Regions from separate parts of the Homo sapiens genome. Here all the other regions are linked to region 1. The links come from fine-mapping of genetic effects on gene expression. A gene starts in region 1. Each other region holds a variant in brackets. All regions are shown on one strand. Distances are between the middles of the regions.

The links. PIP is the estimated chance that this variant, and not a neighbour inherited with it, causes the effect. A credible set is the group of variants that fine-mapping cannot tell apart.
Region 2: its variant is the best candidate, but not a certain one, in a credible set for the expression of ITM2B in monocytes (TOPMed, PIP 0.61).
Region 3: its variant is the best candidate, but not a certain one, in a credible set for the expression of ITM2B in lung (TOPMed, PIP 0.56).
Region 4: its variant is the best candidate, but not a certain one, in a credible set for the expression of ITM2B in whole blood (TOPMed, PIP 0.86).

Annotation. Positions count from the first base shown.
Region 1 is chr13:48,229,808-48,236,069 of GRCh38, forward strand. ITM2B (integral membrane protein 2B) reads left to right here and starts at 3,399. Exons shown (of 6, transcript NM_021999.5): 1 at 3,399-3,670. The coding sequence starts at 3,554. RefSeq lists silencers at 3,275-3,634, 3,645-3,854 and enhancers at 3,910-4,607, 5,712-6,262.
Region 2 is chr13:48,163,579-48,169,840 of GRCh38, forward strand. It overlaps LOC105370198 (a long non-coding RNA gene), which reads right to left. Exons shown (of 6, transcript XR_007063792.1): 4 at 2,698-2,813. Among named protein-coding and RNA genes, the nearest start is that of ITM2B, 66 kb to the right of the region's middle. The variant C/G (reference allele first, on the strand shown) is at 2,486.
Region 3 is chr13:48,115,951-48,122,212 of GRCh38, forward strand. All of the region lies in intron 5 of LOC105370198 (a long non-coding RNA gene), which reads right to left. Among named protein-coding and RNA genes, the nearest start is that of MED4, 24 kb to the left of the region's middle. The variant G/A (reference allele first, on the strand shown) is at 3,282.
Region 4 is chr13:48,156,383-48,162,644 of GRCh38, forward strand. The region is part of intron 4 of LOC105370198 (a long non-coding RNA gene); the gene reads right to left. Among named protein-coding and RNA genes, the nearest start is that of MED4, 64 kb to the left of the region's middle. RefSeq lists enhancers at 233-352, 3,323-3,933. The variant T/C (reference allele first, on the strand shown) is at 2,708.

The DNA.
Region 1 (6,262 bases):
TCAGCCTTCCGAGTAGCTGGAATTACAGGCATGTGCCACCATGCCCGGCTAATTTTTTGTATTTTTGTATTTTTTTTTTCTTTTTTTTGAGACGAATTCTGGCTCTGTTGCCCAGACTGGAATGCAGTGGCGTGATCTCGGCTCACTGCAAGCTCCGCCTCCCGGGTTCACGCCATTCTCCTGCCTCAGCCTCACGAGTGGCTGGGACTACAGGCGCCCGCCACCACACCCGGCTGATTTTTTGTATTTTTTTTTTTTTTTTAGTAGAGACGGGGTTTCACCGTGTTAGCCAGGATGGTCTCGATCTCCTGACCTCGTCATCCGCCCGCCTCGGCCTCCTAAAGTGCTGGGATTGCAGGCGTGAGCCACCGCGCCCGGTCAATTTTTTGCATTTTTAGTAGAGTCGGGGTTTCTCCATTTTGGTCAGGCTGGTCTGGAACACCCGACCTCAGGTGATCTCCCTGCCTCGGCCTCCCAAAGTGCTGGGATTACAGGCATGAGCCACCTCACCCAGCTTCTCCCTCTCTTTCATCAGTGCAGAGCATATCCAGTCTTTTCACAAAGCAAAACAAAAATCCCAAGTGCCACAGCCAGTCAAATCAAAAGAGATCTGCATTTGTTATTAGGATAATTCCTAAAGGGTCTCGGGATATTATAGAGCCCAAGATTTGAAAAAGAAAAAAAAATGCATCTGCTAGTTCAAGGAAAATAATGATAAATTATTTTAAAATTACATGAAAATAATTTATATAAAATAAATTAAAATAATTGAAAAGCATATATAATATTGAAATAGGAAGTCGGTAAGAAAAATAAACAGTGCTTAAGTCTCTGAAGAGGTCAGTCAAAGCCTTCAAAGCTCTCACCTAGAAGAAACACTTCTTTTATGAAAGTTCAGACAAAGCCACAAGATGACCAGCTAAACTCACACATTGGGTTAAGAGAAGAGGCAACAGGAGCACATTTCAAAGGGCTTATTCAGTGACGTTGTTTCACCAAGGACCCTATACTTGTGAAAAATAAAATAAAATAAAGTTTTCCAATCATTCTGTAAAACCACAAGAAATTTCTCTGAATAAGGAATTGTTTCCTTGAGAAAGAACAGACAGAATAGAGATGTAAAGAACCTAAAAAGAAAAAAAAAATCCCTGTTGAAGCACATAATGCAAATCTATTAAAATATTTTAGAATTCAGTTCCCCACTTCCATTTTTTCCTCCCTCCTTTGGTAAGCATAAAAACAAACATGGTTGCTGGTGATATGCAGAGCTGGAATCAGATTCATCTTGCTCTCTCAAACTCAACGTCAAAAAGGAAAACAAAGGTCCTCTAAGACTCCCTTTACATTTGGTAGTTAATAGTAACTTATAACTATGTTTTTAACTTTCTTTTGTTGAGTCATGGACTCTCCTCCTCCCTGGCTCCTAAGTTTTCAGGGTCAACGGGCAACCTTTTCTAAATCACAAGACTGGATTTGCTATGTTTGGTCTTGCTCCAGCGTCTTTATTATCCCTGCTGTTGTGCACTACACAGTTCTGTAGACACATGAGATAAAATGGAGAAAAAAAACCAGGAGATTATTCCCAGACCGGTTGCCAACTGATTTTAAACTGTTGCTCACTGCAAGTACACAAAATAATGAATGGTCTTTTATTCATGAGTCTTTCAAAATAGAAATCCTGGGGCGGGGAGGATTTCTAGTTTTGTCAACCTCATTTGTTCATCCTTTGCCTCAGCTTCCTAGTCTGTTCAGTAGTGTTGTTCACGAAGAATTTTGTTTTATTTTCTTCTGTAATTCCTTTTTTCCCCCCGGAGTATAATGACAGCCAGATTCTTCTCTATCATCTACTGCAAAATGCCTTGAGTATTTTTCTACCATCTTATTTTAACACAGAACGAAGTAGGAAGGATGTACATATAATTATTTATAATCCTCCAGATCTTGCTTCCAGAAATACTTAGTCTTCAACTGTAATGTCTCAGGGAACCTATTAAACTAGGGAGCTGGAAGCAGTCGTTGACTTTGAGGAATTAGATAACATTAGATACTATGAAAGTCCAGTCCATAGAGTCAACCTCACAGAGCCGATGCCTGCACAAGGGCGACCCAGGAGTTTAAATAAGTTGCTGCAAGTATGGTTAGCTACTGTTAAAACTCACCAGAACTGGAACCTAACTCATCCTCCTCTTGGTTGAGCAGATTTCATTTTGACAGGAATTTCTGAATACCCAAAGCAAACTCAAAGTCTGGCCTGGGTTTCTATCTCAGCCCAGGATGCTTCTGAAATACATGAACAGAAGGATTTGGAGATCTTGGGCTGTTTCCCTGGGACTTATGATCTGACATTCTATGGAAATACCCAACTCCCTCCTTGAGCAGGGCCAAATCCCCAAAGATCTCAGACTGAACCCACTTTTTTCAGGGTTGGCCCAAGGCAGAGCTGACACAGCTGTAACATTCTAGAGCACACCCACAACTCTGGATGAACCAGGACAGAATGGGGTGGAAGGATACAAGATAACACATTTGTCCAAGGGGGCCGTCTGTTGACACAGTAATGAACGCAGTAACGACGGGAGCCAGTATTCTACCTCGCATTAGTTGTAAATGAAACGTCTTCAAAACATGAGAATTTTGCGTTATCCTTAATTATTTTTTCATTTTGCAGAAAAATAAAGGGACTCGTCATCGAGTACTTTGAGTCACAAATCAGCCAAGTGTGCATGTGGTTTTTTTCCAAGTACGCACAAGAGTGGAACATTTCGTTTTACGAGTGTGAGATGTTTGAAATACAAATCTGCCAAGAGCTTCCTCCACATTGGTCTGGGACTAGGCAGAACAGGCCCTGACCTCCTGAGAGAGGGAAGGAAGACCAGGCAGGTCTGAGCCAGGTAAACGCCCTTGGGTGAGGTCCGTGAAAGATAAAGTCAGATCTCAAGGACAGAGAGCTTTAAACATGTTTGTGCTCCACTGAGTCGGTTACCTAATAAGTGAGAAAATGAAGATGTGGATGCACAAAAATTCCATGGCCTTTAGGCTCGCGGTGGGGACAGGGTACAGGGAAGCGGCGGTCTGGTGCTGCCAAAGGTTAGTCCCTTGTACCCGGCGAACTCAGGAAAGTTCACTCGATTTCGCTACAAACCTGCAGCACTCGGCCTGGAGGTAACCTGGTTGGGAGCGAATTCAGAACTGGAAATTCCAGGCGGCCCAGAGGGACACCCATCCCTCTCCGAGGCGCGCCGGGATCCGGCGCCCAGCTGCGGGGCGAGGGCAGGGTCCCGCGCAGCACCCCACCCCCGGCCGCTGGCCCCGCCCCCGCCCCCGCCCCGCCTCCCAGGGGATGTGCGAGCAGTCTCCGCCCTCGCGCGGGAGCTGGGAGGCTGCGAGATCCCTACCGCAGTAGCCGCCTCTGCCGCCGCGGAGCTTCCCGAACCTCTTCAGCCGCCCGGAGCCGCTCCCGGAGCCCGGCCGTAGAGGCTGCAATCGCAGCCGGGAGCCCGCAGCCCGCGCCCCGAGCCCGCCGCCGCCCTTCGAGGGCGCCCCAGGCCGCGCCATGGTGAAGGTGACGTTCAACTCCGCTCTGGCCCAGAAGGAGGCCAAGAAGGACGAGCCCAAGAGCGGCGAGGAGGCGCTCATCATCCCCCCCGACGCCGTCGCGGTGGACTGCAAGGTCCGAGCCCGGGGAGGTCGAGGAAGCGGGTGCTGGGCCCGGCCGGGGAGGGCTGCGCGGACTGCAGCGGCAGTGCGCCCCGAGGTGGCGGGCGCGGGGCTCGCGCCGCGGGGACAAGTCCCCGAGAGAGCCCGGCGCTCCCGTTTCCTGTGGGTCCGCAGCTCCTTTGTAAGGAAGTGCGTGTGCTGGAAGCGGTGCCTGACGCGGGGTCGGGGGCTTGGGAGGCCTGGAGAGGGAACGATTGGCTAATTGTGCCGAATTCCCGGTCGTTTGTGCAGTCCGGGGAGCGTGCGTGCAGCCAGGACTTGGCTTGTTCGATCTGGGGACCGGCAGCGACAGGCACAACAACAACAACCGAGTTTGGCACTTCCTTCCCAGTATAAATAATGTACCTAAAATGGCTGACATCATTACAAGCCTAAACCTCTGTTGTTTCCCACTTTCGTTTCTAGGCTTGAACAGCACTTGGACTAAGTCCAGCAACTGTAAGCGTCTTAATTTTAAAAGCGTTTCTTTACCTCCTTTTTCCACGGCCCTTCGGTAGTGGCAGGTGAACTTCACCTGGAGAGGGGACGAAGGGACAGTCCGCCCGAAGTAGGTTTGGGCTGTCTCTTACCATTACTAGTAAAGGCCAGTAATGACTATGTGGATGTTAGTGAAAAACCAATTGTTGGCATTTAAATTGTATCAGCGTCTTTGTGAGGACTCCTGCTGCGTGAAACTAAACATGAGAAATTTGCCCCCGGGTCCCTAATAAAATTCTCCTTTATTTTACAAAATCTCCCTTTAATCCTAGGAAAATTCATGAAGTGGGGCTGTTACTGTGTTGACTTTTAGTAGGTTACGATCATATTTACTTAAATATGAGTGTAATTGTCTCATAAGTTAAAAAAGCCCACAGCCTCTTACCCAGACCCTTTTTAGGCTGCAAAAATTAGAAATTAACTGTAAAGTTATGTTGCTTATCTTATTTTTTGTTGTTGTTAGCATTTTTCAAGACCTATTATCAGTAGGGTAAATTTAGTTTTAACTTAAAAAAATTGGTGTGCCACGTATGAATAATGGGAGTTTTTATATGGACGAATGAAAATTATTGCTGAAAAACAGGCCACTAATATACTGTAAAAAATTCACAATATAATGGTAATCTAGACATCATATTATAATTTATTATATTCTGAATATAATCTATCTTCAGAATATAATGGTAATCTTACTTTCTGGAAATGTTCTGATAAAAACAGACACGTCAGAGGTTGATTTCTAAATGACTTGCCTTGCCTTGAAATAGGAACAGTGAACTGATTCCCTAAAAGGATTAAAGGTTTTGGTTTTCGTATTGGTATTGTTTTCCTGAAGCCATTGCAAACAATCTTGGTCTTTAAAGAAAATGTTTGGAATGCACAGATGAAAATTGCAGTAGCAAATTATTATGTTAGCTCTTTGTTTATCTAACATTCGTTGTACCTAAAATAGATTGAGAGTCAAGTATCCAGTCACAACAGTCTCAAATATATGTAGTCTTAATGCTATCACATATATATATATACACACATACATTTAAAAATCCTATTAACAAATATAACTGCTCCCATTTAGAAAGGAGAGAGTGAGCGAGCATTGGATGATGTCACTTCAGACAGCTTTTCTCTGTTCCGCTGTAGTGGAGATTTGAAACTCTGGACAAACATCAGAATTACATTTGCTGAGCACCATTAAATCTGACTTCTGACAATTTTTGTCATTTCTGAAATAGTGACTCTGCCAGATTCTCAAAATTGCTCACGAGTTCACCATATTTAAATTTTGTGGTCATTGCAGCTATAAGTAATCATTGGTAGCTCCGTGCTTTGTTTTCCATTTTTTATTTTCTCAGATCCTCCATATCCAAAGAAAAATACTACTGGGACTAAAGAGTGAGGGCCAGAGTCGTCTTTGTAAACCACCCAGCAGTCACGGATGAGTTGGTAGATAAAAAATGACTAATTCTTTTTCCAGCTATAAGCTGAAAGACTTCTTTAGGGGATGACAAAATATTTCTCTACATTAAAAGTAGAATCCTTATAATCAGTCAGTCGCTTAACGGGAAAAGGAAAACCTTAATGACAGACTTTTGTGAAAGAAGTTCTGATCTCTTCATTTCAGAGCTTGGGCAGTGATTACATAATGTTCTCTGGCTCCTTGCGGGTGGCTCTGTGGCAGCCACCTTGTCTGACTGCCTGGACTGGGAACAGAATCAGCCTTAATGTGTTTTGCCGAGGGCATTTCCTTTGCCTGGTTGGTTGAAAGAATCAAACCAAGCTAGTTAATGGCCTAGAACTCCTGAACAAGAATTTTTCTTATCTTTAACCCTCCCAGATCACAATATCCCGCAGACCATTGTTTTCCAAAATGTGCTCTTAGGGACCACCTGCTCTGGTTTTAAAATGCAGATTCTGTTACCTTATGCCACAAGAATTCTGATCACTCTAATCAGCTGGCTTATATAACATGCATTCCAGTACTTTTACATTGCTCCTGTCTTTCTATTTTTTTCTTCTGCAGGGTGAGAACTCTCCAGAAACAGTTCTATTACCCCATTTTTCAGTCTTA
Region 2 (6,262 bases), 66 kb before region 1:
GCAGGCAAGGCTGTGAGAAAACAAGCATCTTACCTGTTGCTAGTGAATGTAAAGTGGTACCATCTCACCAGAAGGCAATTTAAACAATATCTTTTATTTTGCAAATGTATATAACCCTGACCTGAAATTCTACTTGTAGGACTTTATCCTATAGATATACCCATATATATGAAAAAAGCAAGTACAGAGAAATTTATTTGCAACTGCTCTGTTGATTTGCAAATAGATTATTATGCAGAACTGTAGAAGAGACTAAGGAAGTTCTGCATGTACTGGTATAGAATGATCTTCAAGATGTTTTATTAAATGAAGAAAAGCAAGGAGAGAGCAATGCGTGTGTGTGTGCATGTATATGTGGGTAACACGTGTGCAAATGCATTTAGAAATATTCTAAATATTTATTATTGTATAACTTTCTGGAAGTATATTTTAAAAATCCATTCACTTATCTCTAGAAAAGGAAATTGGCCAGCTGGGGGACAGACGGGGAGACAGACCTTCTACTGTATATCTTTTTTGTATATACCTTCTGCATTTTGAACCATGTAAATGTATTACTTTCTCAAAAATAAATAAAATATTATTATTATTATTATTATTAATTTATTTATTTTGAGATGGGGTCTTGCTCTGTTGCTCAGGCTGGAGTGCAGTGGCAGGATCTCAGCTCACTGCAACCTCCACCTCCTGGGTTCAAGTGATTTTCCTGGCCTCAGCCTCCCTAGCAGCTGGGATTATAGGCATGCACCACCATGCCTGGCTAATTTTTGTATTTTTGTAGACATGAGGTTTCACCATGTTGGCCAGGCTGGTCTCAACCCCCTGACCTCAAGTGATCTGCCCACCTCGGCCTCCCAAAGTGCTGGGATTAGAAGTGTGAGCCACCACATCCAGCCTAAAAAGAAATATACTATTATAATGAAGAATAAATAAAGAAGCAGTAATACATGAGTTTGAGTGAACTTCAAAAAGGATGAAAAGGATAGTGGATTTTATGTTATGTAAATTTTACCTCAATTTAACAACAACAACAAAAAAAAGGAGCAGGATTGCAACAGGGAGCTAAAGGCAAAGCCTGTCCTTCCTCCAGTGCACCTGTCTTTTTGGCATGGCTCTACTAATGATGTGCTGATCAAGGTTGAACAAAAGATACCTCCCCACCACAATAAAAAGCACTGATTTGTATCATTTGCCAATTTGTATCAATTGTATCGGTTCCCACCAATGAACATGGAGTTGGGACAAAATGCATACAATTGGCTCTTGAGAGCCAGTGCAATTGAGACCCAGGACACCACTGGAATTTACCCAGTTACTGAAACCAGAACCCTGGGAAACATCCTTGATTCTTAAACCTTTCCTACCCCTCGCTACCCATGGTCTGCTCAATAGCCATTGCACTCCTCCCACATTGGGTAGAAGCCTTGTAGTTTAGGAATGGATCCTGTCCCCAGGTGGTCTAATCCAATATATATACTGCCACCCATTGATATGCAAAGACATTTATCCTTTGGGATAGCCAGCTGAATCCTGGGCCACCTGGAGGCCCAGGATGCTTGCTTTGAGTCATTCCAATCTGCTAGCTATGTAAGCATTATTATTTGTTGAAAAGATAGGGAGGCTCCGGACTAAGGGAATTATAGTCATCTATTCCTCTCACTGGTGACTGACTCAGGACCTCAGTACTAAGTCATTTAGTGCATGCTATTCCCTAGTCACAGAGATTAGCCCAAAAGTGGACTCATGACTCAGTTCAGGCCAATGAGATGTGACAAGAGTTTTGCTGGAGGCATCTGAAAAATTTCCTACTCTTCAGAGAGTTGCAGGAAGAGATAATTTCTCTCTTCCTTATACAGAAGATGAGGTCTGGAACTGCCACCACCATCTTGTCCGGCAGCCTGAGCACAAATCCCTCCCCCAGAGGTGGGAGGGCCAAGTGGACGGCCAGAGCCAGACACCCCAGCCTATGTTTGGACAACCCATGCTGTAGGCCAATACATTTCCTATGTTTAAGGTAGTTGGATTTAGATTATCTGTTTCTTGCTGTTGAATGCATCTTAAGCAACATAGTTTTGACCTGTTTGTGCTGGTTTATTTTATGTGTCAACATGGCTAGGCTACAGTACCCAGTTATTCAGTCAAACACTAACCTAGGAGTTACTAGTAAGGTTTGCAGGTGTGATAACATCTACTAAAAATGACTTGAAGTAGATTATCTTTGCTAATCTGGGTGGGCTTCATCCAATCAATTGAAAGTTCTTAAGAGAATAAACAAGTTTCCTTGAAGAAGAAAAAATTCCACCTGCAGACTGCAACATCAGCTCTTGCTCAAGAGTTTCCAGCCTGCTGGCCTGTCCTACAGTTTCAGACTTGCCTAGTCAGTCCCCACAATCACATAAGCCAACTCCTGTCACAAATCTCTTGCTCTCCTTCTGTCTGTGTATATATGTATATACGCATATATATATATATTTATATACTGGCA[C/G]TGTTTCTCTGGTCTAACCCTGATTAATGCACCTCTTTTTTCCTTTGTGATACTTATCTCAATTTGGGATTATATACTTTGCATTTATTATGTATATTCCAATATTCACAGTTAGACTATAGGCTTTATGGACATATGTGAGTAATTCCAGAAGTAGAATTTCTGGTCAATGATTATACACATTTGGAAGATGAAAAATATTGCTAACTTACCGTCTTCAGAGGTTGTACCAATTACACTCTTACTAGATCATAGCCTTCATGTCTTTTGTATTACTATGTGTTCCTGGCACATAGTAGGTGTTCAATAGATATAAACAGACGGAATTCTAGGAAAAGAAACACAAATTAAGGCAAAAAGACATAAAGGTATGCTACATTGGGAAGTTTTTTGTTTGACTAAATCACTTTTTCTTTTAGTTCCCCTTTCCTCTACAGGTGACTTGAAAATTTGGAATAATTCACAACCTGGTGCTTATTCAGCAGCAACAGCAGCAGCAGGCAGAACTCTGAGTTTGGGGTAAGCCCTCAGTTTGAACACAAACTCTGTGACATTCAAGCTGTCCAACCTTGGGCAGATCCTTAGCCTCTATCATCCTCAGCTTCCACATCTTTGTGGAAATGAAGCTGATGACCTTCCAGACTGGAGTGAAGATCAGGAGATAAAGCACCTGGTCCATTATGCACTGTGGACATGGGGATTATAATAAGGTCTTCCCTGCAAATTTGGGAACAGAAAGCAACAATGTGCTCTAAAAACAATGGAAATTGAGCACATAAAGCACCTGAGCAGAGACATAAGGTGACCATGAAGAGACCAGCAGGATATCAACCAAGCTGAAGTTGGTAAAACACCTAAAGGAGGATATGACAACTAGAAGGGGATTGTCAGACACAAAGCCTAGAAAAAGCAGAGTTAGAGACAAAGTGAGGCTGTGCCTCTGAAGGCATGTCCCATCAGGCCCCAAAATTCAGCCCAAAAGGTCATTCCAATCATGAGAACACATCCATCTGGCTGCCTGAACTTAATACTGTTCTACTTTTGAATTACATAAACAGCCCTTTTTGTTCAGATTCCACATTGACCAAAACCTTTCTGATAGTTTGGGGTCCTATTTGGCCTGTCCACAGGGAATTTTCTCCGGTCAGGCTCACCTGGCCAGCCAGCTCTCCTGACCCGGCATCCCACTCAAACACCTGTGTTCTCTTTTATTTTAGAGGTTAGGCAGGACAATCTGACCCAGATGGGGGAGGAAATTGCAATCATGTTTTTGTCTAATTCACAGCTCTAATTAGGGGATAAGAGAAAAATAGAGCATGAGAAGAAATGGTCCAAGAGCTGGAAAATTTGTAAAAGCACCCACATCCCTATGGGGAAGGCACCCTTGTGAACTTTGCCTCTACAGCTAAGCTGACCTCATATCAACTCTGCAAGGAAGACAGGGCAAGCACTTCACATTGTATTTATTTATTTACTTATACCCAGCTTATTCCTTAAAGGACTTAAGGCAAGCAGGCTTTAAGGGCCATCTTCCCTGACTAGTGATAAAACTAAGTGATAAAAATAAGTTTGTCCAGAATCACATACTTTTTATATAAAAGTCCAGAGACCAAACCATGACTTTCTTAGTCTAGGTCAAAGCTCTTGCCAAGGAACCAAACTGAAGATGAGAAAAGAGTGCATTTGTTCTAAACAGAATGCTGAATTCAGAAGACTTAAGGATGGCTTTAGATTAGGACTGAAGTTTGTAATCTGTGATTCAGTTTTTGTGCTTTTGTAATTTCCTTATTCCAGTCTTTTGAATTCTTTTAGATTTTTTATTTATTGTAAAATAGAAGACGTTTGATTCCAGCCATAACAGCGTAGCTTATATTGAGCTAACCCTCCCGTTGAAAACAACTGTACCAGATGGACTAAGTACATAGCACAACATTTGAAAGCATTGGAGGGCAACCAAGACAGATGATCCCTAAGAGAAGGGAGGCACATCAAAGTGATCTCTATACTCACCCTGGCCCAACTCACAGGTCAGGGAATAAAGTAAGTGGCAGTTCCATTAGGCTGAAGAGACGGATTAGAGTTTAAAGCTGCTCAAGTGGCTGCGACTTGATGGTAAAATCTCAAGGAGGAGAGAGTTGCAGAGAAATAAACCCAAAAGGCTACATGCAATCTCCCCTTGAGATGTCTGCAAACTCCTAAGCTGAGCAAGCACAAGCAGAGACTGCAGGAGAACCAAAAGAAAAGCAGCAGCTAGGAGGCTGGAGAGCTGGGCAAAGATTTTTGCAGCAGCATGGTACTGAGAAGATAGAAAAACAAAGCCCACCAAGGTGAATAGGTAAAAACTATTGGTTGAAACCCCGAGAAAGACCTGTGAATAGTCACTGCACTCCAGGCTGGGCAACAGAGTGAGACCCCCTCTTAAAGCTGATAACCAATAAGTTAAAACAAGAGAGGAAAAAAAGGAATAATAAAAGTACTTGATTCTCTCCCCTCAAAAAGCAAGAAAGGAGAAATAAAGAACAGAAATAGAAACAAGTTAACAAGGTAATAGAGTTAAACATAAATATTTCAATAATTACATTAAATGTTAATGGATTAGTACCCCAATTAGAAGATCAGAATTACTTTAAGACAAAAAAGAAAAATACGTATTCTGTTTACAAGAGACTCAATTTAGGCTGGGCGCAGTGGCTCATGCCTGAAATCCCAGCACTTTAGGAGACCAAGGAGGGTGGTTTACTTGAGGCCAGAAGTTCAAGATCAGCCTGGCCAACATGGCAAAACCCTGTCTCTACCAAAAATATAAAAATTAGCCAGGCATGGTGGTGCATGTCTGTAATTCCAGCTACTCAGGAAGCTGAGGCAGGAGAATCGCTTGAGTCAGGAGGCAGAGATTGTAGTGAGCCAAGATCACGCCACTGCACTCCAGTCTGGGTGACAGATGAGACTGTCTCAAAAAAAAAAAAAAAAAAAGAGAGAGAGAGAGACTCAATTTAAATAGAAGACACAAAGTTTAAAGAAAAAGAATGGAGACATGGAGACTGGGCACAGTGGCTCACTTCTATAATTCCAGTACTCCTGTACTTTGGGAGGACGAGGCGGGTGGATCACTTGAGGCTAGGAGTTCAAGACCAACCTGGCCAACATGGCAAAACCCCATCTCTACTAAAAAAAATACAATAATTAGCTGGGTGTGGTGGCATAAGCCTATAGTCCCAGCTACTCTGGAAGCTGAGGCAGGAGAATCACTTGAACCTGGGAGGTGGAAGTTGCAGTGACCAGAGATCATGCCACTGTGCTCCAGCCTGGGCAACAGAGCAAGACTCAGTATCAAAAAAATAAAAATAAATAAAAATTAGCTGGGCATGGTGGGCACAGGCCTGTAGTACTAGCTACTCCAGAGGCTGAGGTGGAAGGATCACTCTTGAGCCCAAGAGTCCGATGCTGCAGTGAGCCATGATCATGCCACTGTACTCCAGCCTGGGCAAGAGAGAGAGACAAACCCTGTCTCAGAAAAAAAAAAAAGAATAGGAGAAACAAAATGCCATGCCATGCCAACAGTAACAAAAAAAAAAGCTGGTAGAGCTGTATTAATATCAGACAGCACAGACTTTAGAGCAAGAAATATCTCTAAAGAAGGATGTCTCATAATGATAAAAAGATCAATTAACCGTCCTAAATTTAAATATACCTAAGAATTTATAATTTATAAATCTTTTAAAAAATGTTACCCAGCATGGTTTCAATACATATTAAGCAAAGTTGGCAGAACTAAAA
Region 3 (6,262 bases), 110 kb before region 1:
TTTCAGCTTGAAAAAGATGGATGTTGAATGTTGGAGCCATTACTGGGTCAGGCCAACAATGGCGAAGACACTCAAGAGTGTTTGTTGTAAATATCAGGGTGTCTTGCACAGGGGAAGAATTGACTAAATTGGGGATCCAAGAATGAAAAGACTTTTAATTTAATGATTTTCTTTTTTTTTTTTTTTGAGACAGAGTTTCACTCTTGTCGCCCAGGCTGGAGTGCAATGGCACAATCTCTGCTCACTGCAACCTCCGCCTCCTGGGTTCAAGCGATTCTCCTGCCTCAGCCTCCCGCGTAGCCAGGATCACAGGCACCTGCCACCATGCCCGGCTAATTTTTTGTATTTTTAGTAGAGACGGGGTTTCACCACGTTGGCCAGGCTGGTCTCAAACTTTTGACCTCAGGTGATCTGCCTGCCTTGGCCTCCCAAAGTGCTGGGATTACAGGCATAAGCCACTGCGCCTGGCCCAATGACCTGTTTTTGAAATAGTAGGATGAAGGGCAAAATGTTGACCTGGGGAAAATAGAGCAAGTGTCAGTCAAAATTATTCTGGGAAGTCTGCAGAGGTTGCCATGAAGCAGCAGGGGTGATCCAAGTTAAGACTCATCAGAAACATGAATGTCCCACTGGGTCTAGAATATCAAGAAAGAACTCCAAGATAGTTTGCTTCATCAACATGTTCAGAGTTGAGGTGCGTGACAAAATAATTGTTTTTCTGAAGCACTTTTAACTGTGAACATTACAACATACCCACTGAACACTGGAAAGTTAATTTGTAGTTTGAAGAATTGACCAGATAAGGACCCTGATACTTCGGATATTAACATTTGCCAGTGCTCTAAGTAGTTCATTTTAAAAAGGAAAGGAAGAAAAGCTGACTTAAGCTACAAAACATGTTTTCTCCCAGTATCACTGATATATTACCTTTGCTTCTGAAGTGGGTTGGTTCATTAGCAAAGGGTGCAGCATTTTCCACTTCCCTTTTACAAACTGAACTTTAGCGCAGACCCTGAAGAGTCTATGGAGGTTGGTCAGTAATCACAATGGAATAGGATATGCCTTACCCTCAAAGAGAGACGTGGAAGGTCAAGGTCATTTGCAGGTGCCTCCCTCAGTGCTCGGAAATGGTATACATTTCTTATAACAATATGTGATACTGTAATTACCTACTTATTTTTCAGTCTTTTCCAATAGACTATAAGCTCTTCAAGTGCAGAGACTGTGTATTATTAATCACTGTAAGTCCAAATGCTTAAAAAGCCACTAACAGGAAGGGCTCAGTAAATGCTTTATACAAAGTGAGTGGATCAATGTACAGAGGGATTGATGGATGAATGGATGGATGGTTGGATGGATGGATGGTTGAATGAATGGATGAATGGATAAATGGTTGGTTGGTTGGATGGATGGATAGATGGATGACTCCTGGATTCCTGCCATTAAAGAAAAACCATCACAACAATAAAGAAAATGGTGCTCAAGTGAAGGGTGGACAAGATAGATGAGATTGACTTGGGCCCAGAAGAGTCACTAAAAGGGCATATAATCCTAGAATCATTGGGAAGAAGGAAACTTGGATCAATTTTTGCCACTGCTTCTTCTAATCCATCCTCCCAAGAGTCTGGTCTGTACCTCCAGTAGAGAAAACTGCTACTGGGTAAACAAGGTTATCTTTGTGGGACTGAAGAACAAGTAAGAGCTCCAAGACTTACTGAGAAGGACAGAAGGCCTGTCTACCTTATTCCTGTCCATGGAGTAGAAACCCTGAGAGGCAAGGGCTCCATGTGCCTGAGGGAGACAGAGTTATGGGTTTCTTGGGCCACTGAACAGTCGTCATGACTATAGTCCCAGAATAACTACTTCCCATAAGGGATGGACTATGGGGGAGTGAGGAATGAAGGACCTTTGGGAGTGCAGTCAGCAAGAGCTTGTTTGCAGACCTCAGTGAGCTCCAGGGGACTGCATTTGGTAGCTAGAGATTTGGTAGGGTCAGCAGCAATAAGGCACCAGCAATATAAACTCTTTTGCTCCCAGGAAATCTCAAGCTAGAGACTGATATGATTGAATAATAAGAGAACAGCAATCCATCAACCTCTCCGAGACACACAGAAACTGCCCCTAGTGAAGGTTTCTGCAAACCTGTAGGCAATGAGGTGAGGGCAACCTCCAGGGATAGCTCATTGGTCTCCCAAGCAGCCAGGAGCTGAAAAACTGGCGAGGGGTGGGTGGTGCCAGGGGAGAGTTGAGGGACCGCACTTCCCCTCCCTGAGCAATGCTGACCCAAGGGCCTTTGGGAGGAGGTTGTGCCACAGGACCGGTCATCAGAGAAGGAAGTCATTGCCATTCTACTAGCAAGTGAAGCTTGGGAATATAGGCAGGCTTTCAACTAGCTGCATGGAAAACAGCCCCAGGGTTCATCTGCAGGGTGCCCCCCTCCCCAGTACATGATTAACGTGGACACCTAAAAATCCAAGCTTATAATTTATACATTTGTCAAGGTGGGGTATGTTGGAGAAGGCGGGCCAAGCTTACTGTATAAAAGGAATGCTTCATTTCGTAGAATGTTATTCCCCTGCAGTTGCCTCTCACAGGTAGCAGAGCGTGGTGTTTAAAAGCATGGGTTTTGGAGCCAAATGCCAGGGTTACAATCATGACTAAATTCCTTCTGTTCTGAGACCTTGAGCAAGTTTCCTCACCTCTCTAAGTCTCTGCTTCCTCATCTGTGAAAGAAGATAATTAGAGCACCCACCTCATAGAATTGTTAAGAGGACTAATTCAATCAATCCAATTAAGTGCTGATATATAAGAACTCAATAAATACAGCATACATACAAAATAAGATTTGAGTTATTAAATTTGAATCATACATGTGGCCAAGCATTCACAAATTTCCTATGTAATTGCGAGTGGAGTAGTAGTTTGTCACGAGGTGGTGATTGGTGCAGAGGAACTGGGACACCAACCAAAAATATACATTGTGATACATTTTTTTCCCCTAAGATACTCAAGGATTTCTTGTTTTTGTTTTTTGTTTTTTGTTTTTTGTTTTTGAGACAGGGTCTTGTTCTTGTCACCCAGGCTGGAGTGCAATGGCACGATCTCAGCTCACTGCCACCTCCACCTGCTGGGTTCAAGCAATTCTACTGCCTCAGCCTCCTGAGTAGCTGGGACTACAGGAGCCCGCCACCACGCCTGGCTAATTTTTGTGTTTTTACTAAAGATGGGGTTTCGCCATGTTTTCCAGGCTGGTCTTGAACTGCTGACCTCGTGATCTGCCC[G/A]TCTCAGCCTCCCAAAGTGCTGAGATTACAGATGTGAGCCACCACACCCAGTCTGTTTTTGGTTTTTGTTTTGAGACAGAGTCTCACTGTCACCCAGACTGGAGAGCAGTGGTATGATCTCAGCTTACTGCAACCTCTGCCTCCGAGGTTCAAGCAATTCTCCTGCCTCAGCCTCCCAAGTAGCTGGGATTACAGGTGCGTGCCACCATGTCCAGCTAAGTTTTGTATTTTTAATAGAGACAGGGGTTTGCCATGTTGGCCAGGCTGGTCTCGAACTCCTGACCTCAAGTGATCTGCCCGCCTCGGCCTCCCAAAGTGCTGGGATTACAGGTGTGAGCCACCGTGCCCGGCCAGATATTCAAAGATTTCTTGTCAAACCCCTGAAGTTTTTATGGAACACAGTTTGGAAACCACTCCATTACTGGGCCAAAAAACAAAGCTATATATCCTATGGTGATTATAGTGAGGTTGAGTCCTTTACATCTGGCCCACTCATGCTAAAATAACCACTGGCAACTTATAAAGCTGGCTCCACTGAGAGAATTCCTTCTAACATCTTGGTGACTAGGCAAACAGACATGATCCTGGTCTTTTTTGAAGGGTATATGATTGACACTGCCAAGGAAAACAGTTAACAGGAGACACTAACTTAGAAGAAATAAAACCTGTTATTTTGGAGGGTACTATGAGTAAACAAAGGAGCGTTAAAACATATAATATAATCTTGGTGAGGTAATGAATAAAAATTTATTTATTAAAATATAACATTTCTTCATATAAAAATGTAAATAATGGGGCTTTAATAAAGAACATTTAAAAAGAGTAATGAGCTAGTCAGAAAACAAAGACTAAGAGGTCAACAACCACCTCAAGCTTTCCCCAAGCTATAAGAAAAACTGCCTGGTGTTTCTGATGAACCAAGTTATTTATGACATTTAAAACGGTGATATGAGCTATGATCTCTATTTCTGTTAAAAAAATAAAGAAATAAAAAGTCTTTAAAAGGTAGATTGTCATTCATGGATGACTGGAAGTTACATCTGAGAATCGCTGCCTTTTAAGCCTTATAGTTTAAAAATATTACCTCTGGGTGGTACAGTTTAGGAACAGGCCCTGGGAGAAAGTAATCTCAGGCCTTTGAATTCTTTCTATCCTATCTACCCTCCCACATAGCTCACTTAGGGTTGAGAGTTGAGTTTCATGTATTTAATTACATGCACCTGGAGGCAGGACACAATGACCCACGCTATGATCAAATGGTAATGCTACAAGAGTCACTCATTAAAAAGGCTAAGCATATGTGAGTTTAGCTTTTTCCAAGTAAAGACTAATAAAGTGAATATTTTATATATTTAATCACACGCTATTATGACACTGATAGGCAAAGAGACATAATTGGTAAGCAATTACATATGTAGCTGGTGTTACTTTCATACATGAAAATTATACTTTTACTGCTCCGATCTTCTCACTTTTGGTCCACACGACAGTATCATAAAAAAGCAAGGTTGCAGTGAGGACAACCTAGGTCAAAAGTTGCCAGGAGGGCAGAGGATTCATGAAAATAGACCCCATGCTTCTGTTGATTGGAGGGAGGTCTTGGTTGAGAGTGAGAGGAAAAAAGACCAGATGCTAAGAGTGAGTAAAAGGAACATTGTTCCTGTTGAGCCAGGAAGGAACAGGATAGGAATCGAGAAGGGCAATTTTAAAAAGGCAGGGGATGGGCAGTTCTTGTCAGGTGGGTAGACCTGTGCTTTTGCAGAAGAGGAACCTTAAGCAGGTTTCTTTCGAATACCTTCAAGGGTAACTGAATTTTTTGTTGCTTTCGTCTCCCACTTTCCCTCATCCCCTCAAAACATTTGTGGTACCTGAAATTCCTTAAACAGGGAATAAAGTTTTTCATTACGCAATTAGAAACAAAGATTGACCACAAGCAAATCAGCTGGCAGAGGTGACATGAAACTTTGCTCACTAAATGTTAATGGCTGATAGTGGATCATTGGCTATTTTGATAGGAAGAGGAAGTAAGAGAATGGGAGGCCCTGGGATGAGGTGGTTTTCCAGAGAAGGAAAGGAAGCATATTAAATGATAAGAAAAGAAACAGCTCACGGTTATTGAGTATTTATGTGCCAGGCTCTGTTCCAAGTGCTTTACGTGAATTAACTCTTTCAATTTCGCAGCACCCTGCCTGAGGTAGGTACTATTACTAATCTCATTTTACAGATAAGGAAACAAAGTCATGGAGAGGTTTGGTAACTTGCCCAAGGACATAGCAGAATGGCCAAGAGTTGATTTCTGGCATTTCTAGCCCAAGAGTCCACACTTTTGGCCACAGAGTGAAAGAAAATTGTCTCAGAGAAAAAATGACCCAGGAGACAAACTTCCCTACATAGACAATGTCGCCAAAAGTCAGCCTGTTCACTTCTGAGTATTAGGGATAAGGAGAAGAGGTGTTTTATGGTGCACAGCATTGAGTATCTGCTACTTAAAGGAACATTGGTGCTGGAATGGTTACTATGCTCAGTCTTATGGACCCTTTTGATACATTCTTGGTCTTACATGTGCACCGCTCAACTGCCTGAATTAGTGATCCTGTGGCAGTTGTTTAAACCCTCTGCACCTCTGAGTCCACATTTGGAAACTGGGTTATTTCCACTTGTCAGCTCCCTGACTCAGAGGAATGCAGGGAGGGCTAATGGGCTGATCTATGCTAAGTGCTCTGGGCCATAAACCAGGACTAACTGAACTTTCAGAGAACACTATGACTTGGCAGTGCTACTTAAATTGACAGAAGTGGTAGAATATTCTCCTAGCAGCTTCTTTACATGTCTTGGTTCAGCTGCCTAATCGCCCTTTAGGACAACAGCAGTCGGTCCACTGCGGCTGAATTCCTTGCTAGACTTACACTGTGTTGCTCCAACAGAGGACGACTGTCTGGTAGACTTGGGAGATGCCCATATTGTCTGGGACTGTTCAAATT
Region 4 (6,262 bases), 73 kb before region 1:
AAAATTAGAAGTTCTAATATTTTCCTTGAGTACCTCAGTGGATCATCTTAAACACCATGGAATTTTCCACCACGATGAATATCCAAACACTTAGACAAGGTTTTTGAAAGACTCCTACTCAGACCCTACCGAGGCATTCTGAATCAGAACTTCTGAGGGTAAGGCCCTAATGAGACAGCCAAACGCCAAGGCAGATAAAAAGGGGTCCCCGGAGAATCTCTAACCCTCCCCACAGGTGTTTACATCAGATGTTTTTGTGCAGACGAAGGAACTTGCCCAGGGCCTTGTCTGAGCATGCCCACATGAGCCCTGGGGGAGCAGGGTGGAGTCACAGGCAGGGGGAGGAGCCCTGGGATTCAATCTGTGAAGTGGGGAGCCTGTTTTCGCTTTGCTGAGGTTTTTTTTCATTTTTCCCTTTTCACCCAATAAAATCCTGCTCTATTCACCCTTCAATGTGTCCACGTGCCTAATTTTCTTGGTCATGTGACAAGAACCTGGTTTTAGCTAAACCAGGAGCAAAATTCTAAAACACTAGCAAGGACATTTTGAAAAAGTTTCCCTGCTGATTCCCATGTGCACCTTTGGTTTAAAAATACAATTCTAAAGATACAAGAATTAGAACCCCTAAAGGCCAGGTGCAGTGGTTCACGCCTGTAATCCCAGCACTTTGGGAAGCCGAGGCGGGCGGATCATGAGGTCAGGAGTTCGAGACCATCCTGACCAACATGGTGAAGCTCCGTCTTTACTAAAATACAAAAATTAGCCCAGTGTGGTGGCGGGTGCCTGTAATCCCAGCTACTCGGGAGGCTGAGGCAGGGGAATTGCTTGAACCCGGGAGGCAGAGGTTGCAGTGAGCCAAGATCGCGCCACTGTACTTCAGCCTGGGCGACAGAGCCAGACTCCATCTCAAAAAAAAAAAAAAATTAGAATCCCTAAAACACTGAACATAGTAGTCAAATGGCTACTGAATGCAAAGATCAGTCAATTAACTCTGGGAAATGTATAGTTCAACAGATTATCTGGATCATCATGTGCCTCAAAAAACATTGTGCTCTCCTCCCAACTCCATATTTTTCTTCCTCTGACTCTGTCCTTTCCTTTCTATTTTATTAATTTATTATTATTATTATTTTTTGAGATGGAGAGCTCTCTAAGTTGCGCAGGCTGCTCTCAAATGATCCTCCTGCCTCAGCCTCCCAAGGTGCTGGGATCACAAGTATAAGCCAACATGCCTGGCCTCCCCTCACTTTTAATATAACTTGAACTTTACTATTATATGCATAGATATTCATTATAGAAAATATAGATAAGCAAAAAAGAAGAAAATAAAAATGAATTCATAATTCTACCATTCCAAAATAATGAAAATGTTTACTCATAGCTTTCAATATATTTATGCAAACATGTATTTAAAAGGGAATCGGCCGGGGGCAGTGACTCACGTGTGTAATACCAGCACTTTGGGAGGCCGAGGTGGGCAGATCACCTGAGATCAGGAGTTTGAGACCAGCCTGGCCGACATGGTGAAACCCCGTCTCTACTAAAAATACAAAAATTAGCAGGGCATGGTGGCAGATGCCGGTAATCCCAGGTACTCCAGAGGCTGAGGCAGGAGAATTGCTTGAACCCAGGAGGAGGAGGTTACAGTGAGCCGAGATCGTGCCATTGCACTCCAGCCTGGGAGACAAGAGTGAAACTCCATCTCAAAATATATATATAAATAAATAAATATAAAAGGGAATCATACTGTACATGCCATTTTTAACCTGACTTTCTTCACTGTGTAATTATGTATTTTTTTCCGAGAAAATAAGAATGAAAGCTCTGACAGAGCCAGGAACAGTGGCAAGAGAGCTGATCGGCAAAGAGCAGGTGGTGAGATCAGAAACTCCCCCACTAACCTGCTGAACTGCCATCCTCTCCCTCATATTCTCTTCCCTCTACCTTCTGATCCTCCCTGACTTCATCTCTCTTCCTCTGTTTGCCTTCTACATGCTCTTTCCCTTTCTCTTTTCTTTCACCTTCTACCCTCAATTCTCTCTACTAAAGCAACCAAGGCCTTCAGGACAAGGATTAATATTTAATAGAATTAAACTTCCTGTTAATTTGACAAGGGATGCATAACCAGGAAGCTGGAGTGACAGCTGCACCCTCCTCTGAAGTGGGGATTTTCTGAGCAAGCCCAAGCAAGAGCCCTCTGTTCTTCTACTTTTTTTTTTTTTTTTGAGACAGAGTTTCGTTCTTGTTGCCCAGGCTGGAGTGCAATGGCATGATCTTGGCTCACTTCTCCTGCCTCAGCCTCCCAAGTAGCTGGGATTACAGGCATGTGCCACCATGCCCGGCTAATTTTGTATTTTTAGTAGAGACGGGGTTTCACCATGTTAGTCAGGCTTGTCTCCAACTCCTGATCTCAGGTGATCCACCTGCCATGGCCTCCCAAAGTGGGATTACAGGCATGAGCCACCACACCCAGCCTGAGCCCTCTGTTCTTGATAACTATCTGTTATTTCCACTCGGGAGCCCAAATTAAAGTTCCTTATTTGTCTTAGAAGCAAGGTGCGGCCAGAGGCAGCGGGGTACCCAGGTTGTCAGAGAAGAGCCATGTCAGGAAGATTGCATTTCTGGAATTGAAACCAAGGGAGAGATGGTTGACAGAAGGTGAGGACTGAGAAGGAGGCAGGCATGAAAATCCAGAACAAACCAGCTG[T/C]GGAGCTTTCCCACTGGTGTTACAAAACCGGTCACAGAAAACCAGTTCCTCTTGCTTTAGGTGGCAAGAATCTTCTACATGCTGGTTACCTCAACCCCACTGACAAAGACATTTCCACCTGCAATTATTAATCCACTGCTAGTGAGGAAAGTTTTCTGAACTTTGAAAACTTCATTGGGCTGGTGTGAAAGAAAGTAAGCACTTTCTACTACAGTGAAGCCAAATTGTGTTTTTCAGAGGCTGTGGAAAATTATTATTTTCATTAAATGCAAATCATTGCCCTCAAACCAATGACGTTCTTAGGCATGAAATTGTCATTGGCTTTATTAACTAGGAGAGGCTACATTACCCAACTCTCTAAAGGCACTCTGCTGTAGAAGGTTCTAGAAAATGAATGGAAAGTGACTCATTCTCCACCTTCATCCCCAAAACCAAAACTCCCCCTGCAGCAAAACACCCCCTGCAGCAGCAGGAGTTTATGGATCATCCTCAGAGTGGGGGTGTAGCACATGGGCCACTAGATGCTTCAGGGGGCAGCAATTAAGTGCTTCACCAGGGGCATTAGTCACAGTGGGTGGGACCCTCCCTGTCACCCTGCAGAAATGGGAGCCAGAGAAGCTGGTAATAACTGAAGAGAGGGAGGCCCCATCCCCTACAACCTCTCCCTTTTCCCAGCAGCAAGTACTGAATAAGCAGCACTTAGCATATGTACAAGGTCAGAAAGGAGGTGAAAAATAGGGAGAAGGTGTTTTGACATAAATATTTCCAGAAAGGATCTCTTAAGGGAGAGCATCTCTGGCTTATGGCAGAGTTAAAACTTAAAAAAGAAAAAAAAATTATTCGAAAAAAACTAGAAAAAGTTTTCCTCCTCCTCACCCCGAGAAACAAATCTCTACTTGTAGTGGCGCCTGAAGTTTAACCATTAGTGACTCATTCCTTTGTGAACTGCAGGAGACTTGGCATTTAAGAGGTCTGTATTGAAATGCAAATATTTATGAGACCTGCCAATAATTTTCACTAGTATCAGAATCCTTGAGATGACCTTCAAATACAGATTCCTGGTGGCATAGACATGCATAGTTTGTACCCCTAGTCCTCACTACAACCATGACCTTCAGGCAATAGATGGGTTCTCCAGTTCTCTGGCTTCTGATGGGACCCTGATGTAGTTAACTTAAGTTCTTGCTTTTCCAGGTTAGAAAATGATTTCCACTGTGGCGACAGTTTGGCTACCTCAATCAGAACTGACCCTTTATAGTTAAAGATGGAAGCAAAATGGAAAACTGTAAATAGTTGGGCTTTTTAAATTTTGGCATGTCAAAAGGGAGGGCGGCTATACAGGAGTAAACACTGTCACCTTCCTCCACTGAATCCATGGCCCCTTCCTATATCTTGTCTCGTTCTTTTCTCCTTGGTTTCTCTACAATTACATTCTCTTTCTCCTTTTTCTCCTACCCCTCAAGACACAGACATACTAGGAATGCAATCATATTTGTCTTATATGTACTTAATAATTTAGTACTTTCTTTACACAACATGGTGAGAAATAAAATTCTAAGCCCCCAACTGACTGAATGGACCCTCTCTTGGCCAAAGGAGCCCCAAAGAAACCTTGGAAGCTGAATTCATGGCCACAGTCTGACACCTCCTCCCTCGATAAAAGTCATTAGGTTTCCTTCTCGAAGGTCTAAACAGAAACCAGCCCTTTCAACAGACTACTAGCTTGTCTTCCCAGACACAGTACAAAGACAAGATGAGGTTAATGGTTCCTTCATCACTCCCCAAGACCTCTGCTTCCTCTATTCCCTTTTTCTTCAATGCTGGCCTTACCTTGTGTAAAATGTAGATTTTGGGGGCACTAGTTAAGTCTCACAAATACATTCTCATTGGTCTCACTGTCACCCCTCCTCCACCCCTTTTAAAGGAAAATGAATAAATACTAAACCTCCTGAGAATCTCTTTGGAAAAAACAGCCACAGATGCTTCTGTGACTCATGTTTTTTTCCCGGGCACGCCCTCACACTGGCTCAAAACCTGGATGATTTGAATCTTATGCTTCAATCACTCATTTTGGTTTTCAATAGGTTTAATATTTTACTTGAGAATAGAGTCGTGTCAGTGAGCTGGACTTTTTTACTCAATGGGCTTAGCAGCCATGACAGGGGAAAAAGGGTCTTCCCTCTGTTTCATGATGTTAAGAGTGAAGGGATCATTGATCAGGTGCTGAGAGCCACAGGGCCACCTAAAGAGTGTCAGAGGATAATAAGGGTGAGTTGGGGGTTTGAAAAAACAAGACCAAGGACAAGATCCCCCTCCTTCTCAAACTGGCAAAGAACAAGTTAAAATCAGCCCTGACCAGTGAGCCCTGGTTAACAGTCCACCCTGGGGCAGCAGCAAAGACCCCACAGGTTGCTCTCTGCTCATGCCCTCTGTAAGATTTCCTCAGGTGGGGAGGGCACATGGGGCCCAGGGTTATTCTGTAGAGTTGGGACAACCATAATGTACCTCTTCTGCCTGTTGGCCTCCTTTTCCCCACTTCAATACATACAGGTGAAATCAAATGAAAATTAACACCAAGGACCCCACAAAGGGTAAAGAAGCCACTACAAGCCAAGAAAGCAGAGTGTGTGGACAAAAGAAGGGGGGAAGTAAGTCACTCCAGATTCTCTGGGTTGCTAGGTGTAGTTTGGAAGACAAAGTTACTGATATTTTCAAGCTTCAGCTGGCCAAGCCCTCTTCTCCTCTAGGTGGGATGCCTCCATGAGCTCCAACAGGCAGCCTCGCCGACCTCCCAGCTCTGCTCAGTTGCTCAGCACCCCATGGAGAAGGTGAAGCCCATAATGAACACACTGCCCTGGCCACTTACTTCCTCCAACCAAAGAAGCCCTCATCTCCCGGGCCTAGACCATTTCCGGAGACCAGCTTGTGACAGAGCCACAACCTCCGGTCACTCTGTCAGCTATCTGCAGTTCCTCCTTTTTCCTTTCCTCTCTCCCCTCATAAACAATGACTGTTGATGTTTCCACTAGCTACAGATGCTGATGCCAAGATTAGCTTTGGTCAAGATGATATTCTCCATCCTCCAAAACAATGACCAAAATGTTTTATTTTATGGCTAGGAACTTTACTTTCTTTCATATGAAATATTTAATGTATTTTTCACTGTGCTCATTTTTGTTTTGTGTGGTGATAGTTAATAGCAAAACTTATGCTACCCCATCAAGAAATAAACAAGGAACTTCTTGATAACAGGAGGAACTAACCATGCAACTGAAAGCAGAGGCGCAAAAAAGAGCTTTTTCTATATTTGATTCCTTCTCTGATTTGTATAATCTCCCCATCAAAAAAAAAAAAATCAATGAATTGTGTAACTCAGTTTCTCAAGTGTCATAACAACCTGTGCTCCCTGTTCCACTCTCCCCACACACAGAATGCTTAATAAGAGATTAAAGCACACATAGACATCTATCGTTTTAAGCAGGTAGCTATATGCTTCTGCTGCCACTCACCAAAGACAGGGAAATTTCTCATTTGTATAAAGCCCAGTTACCAATA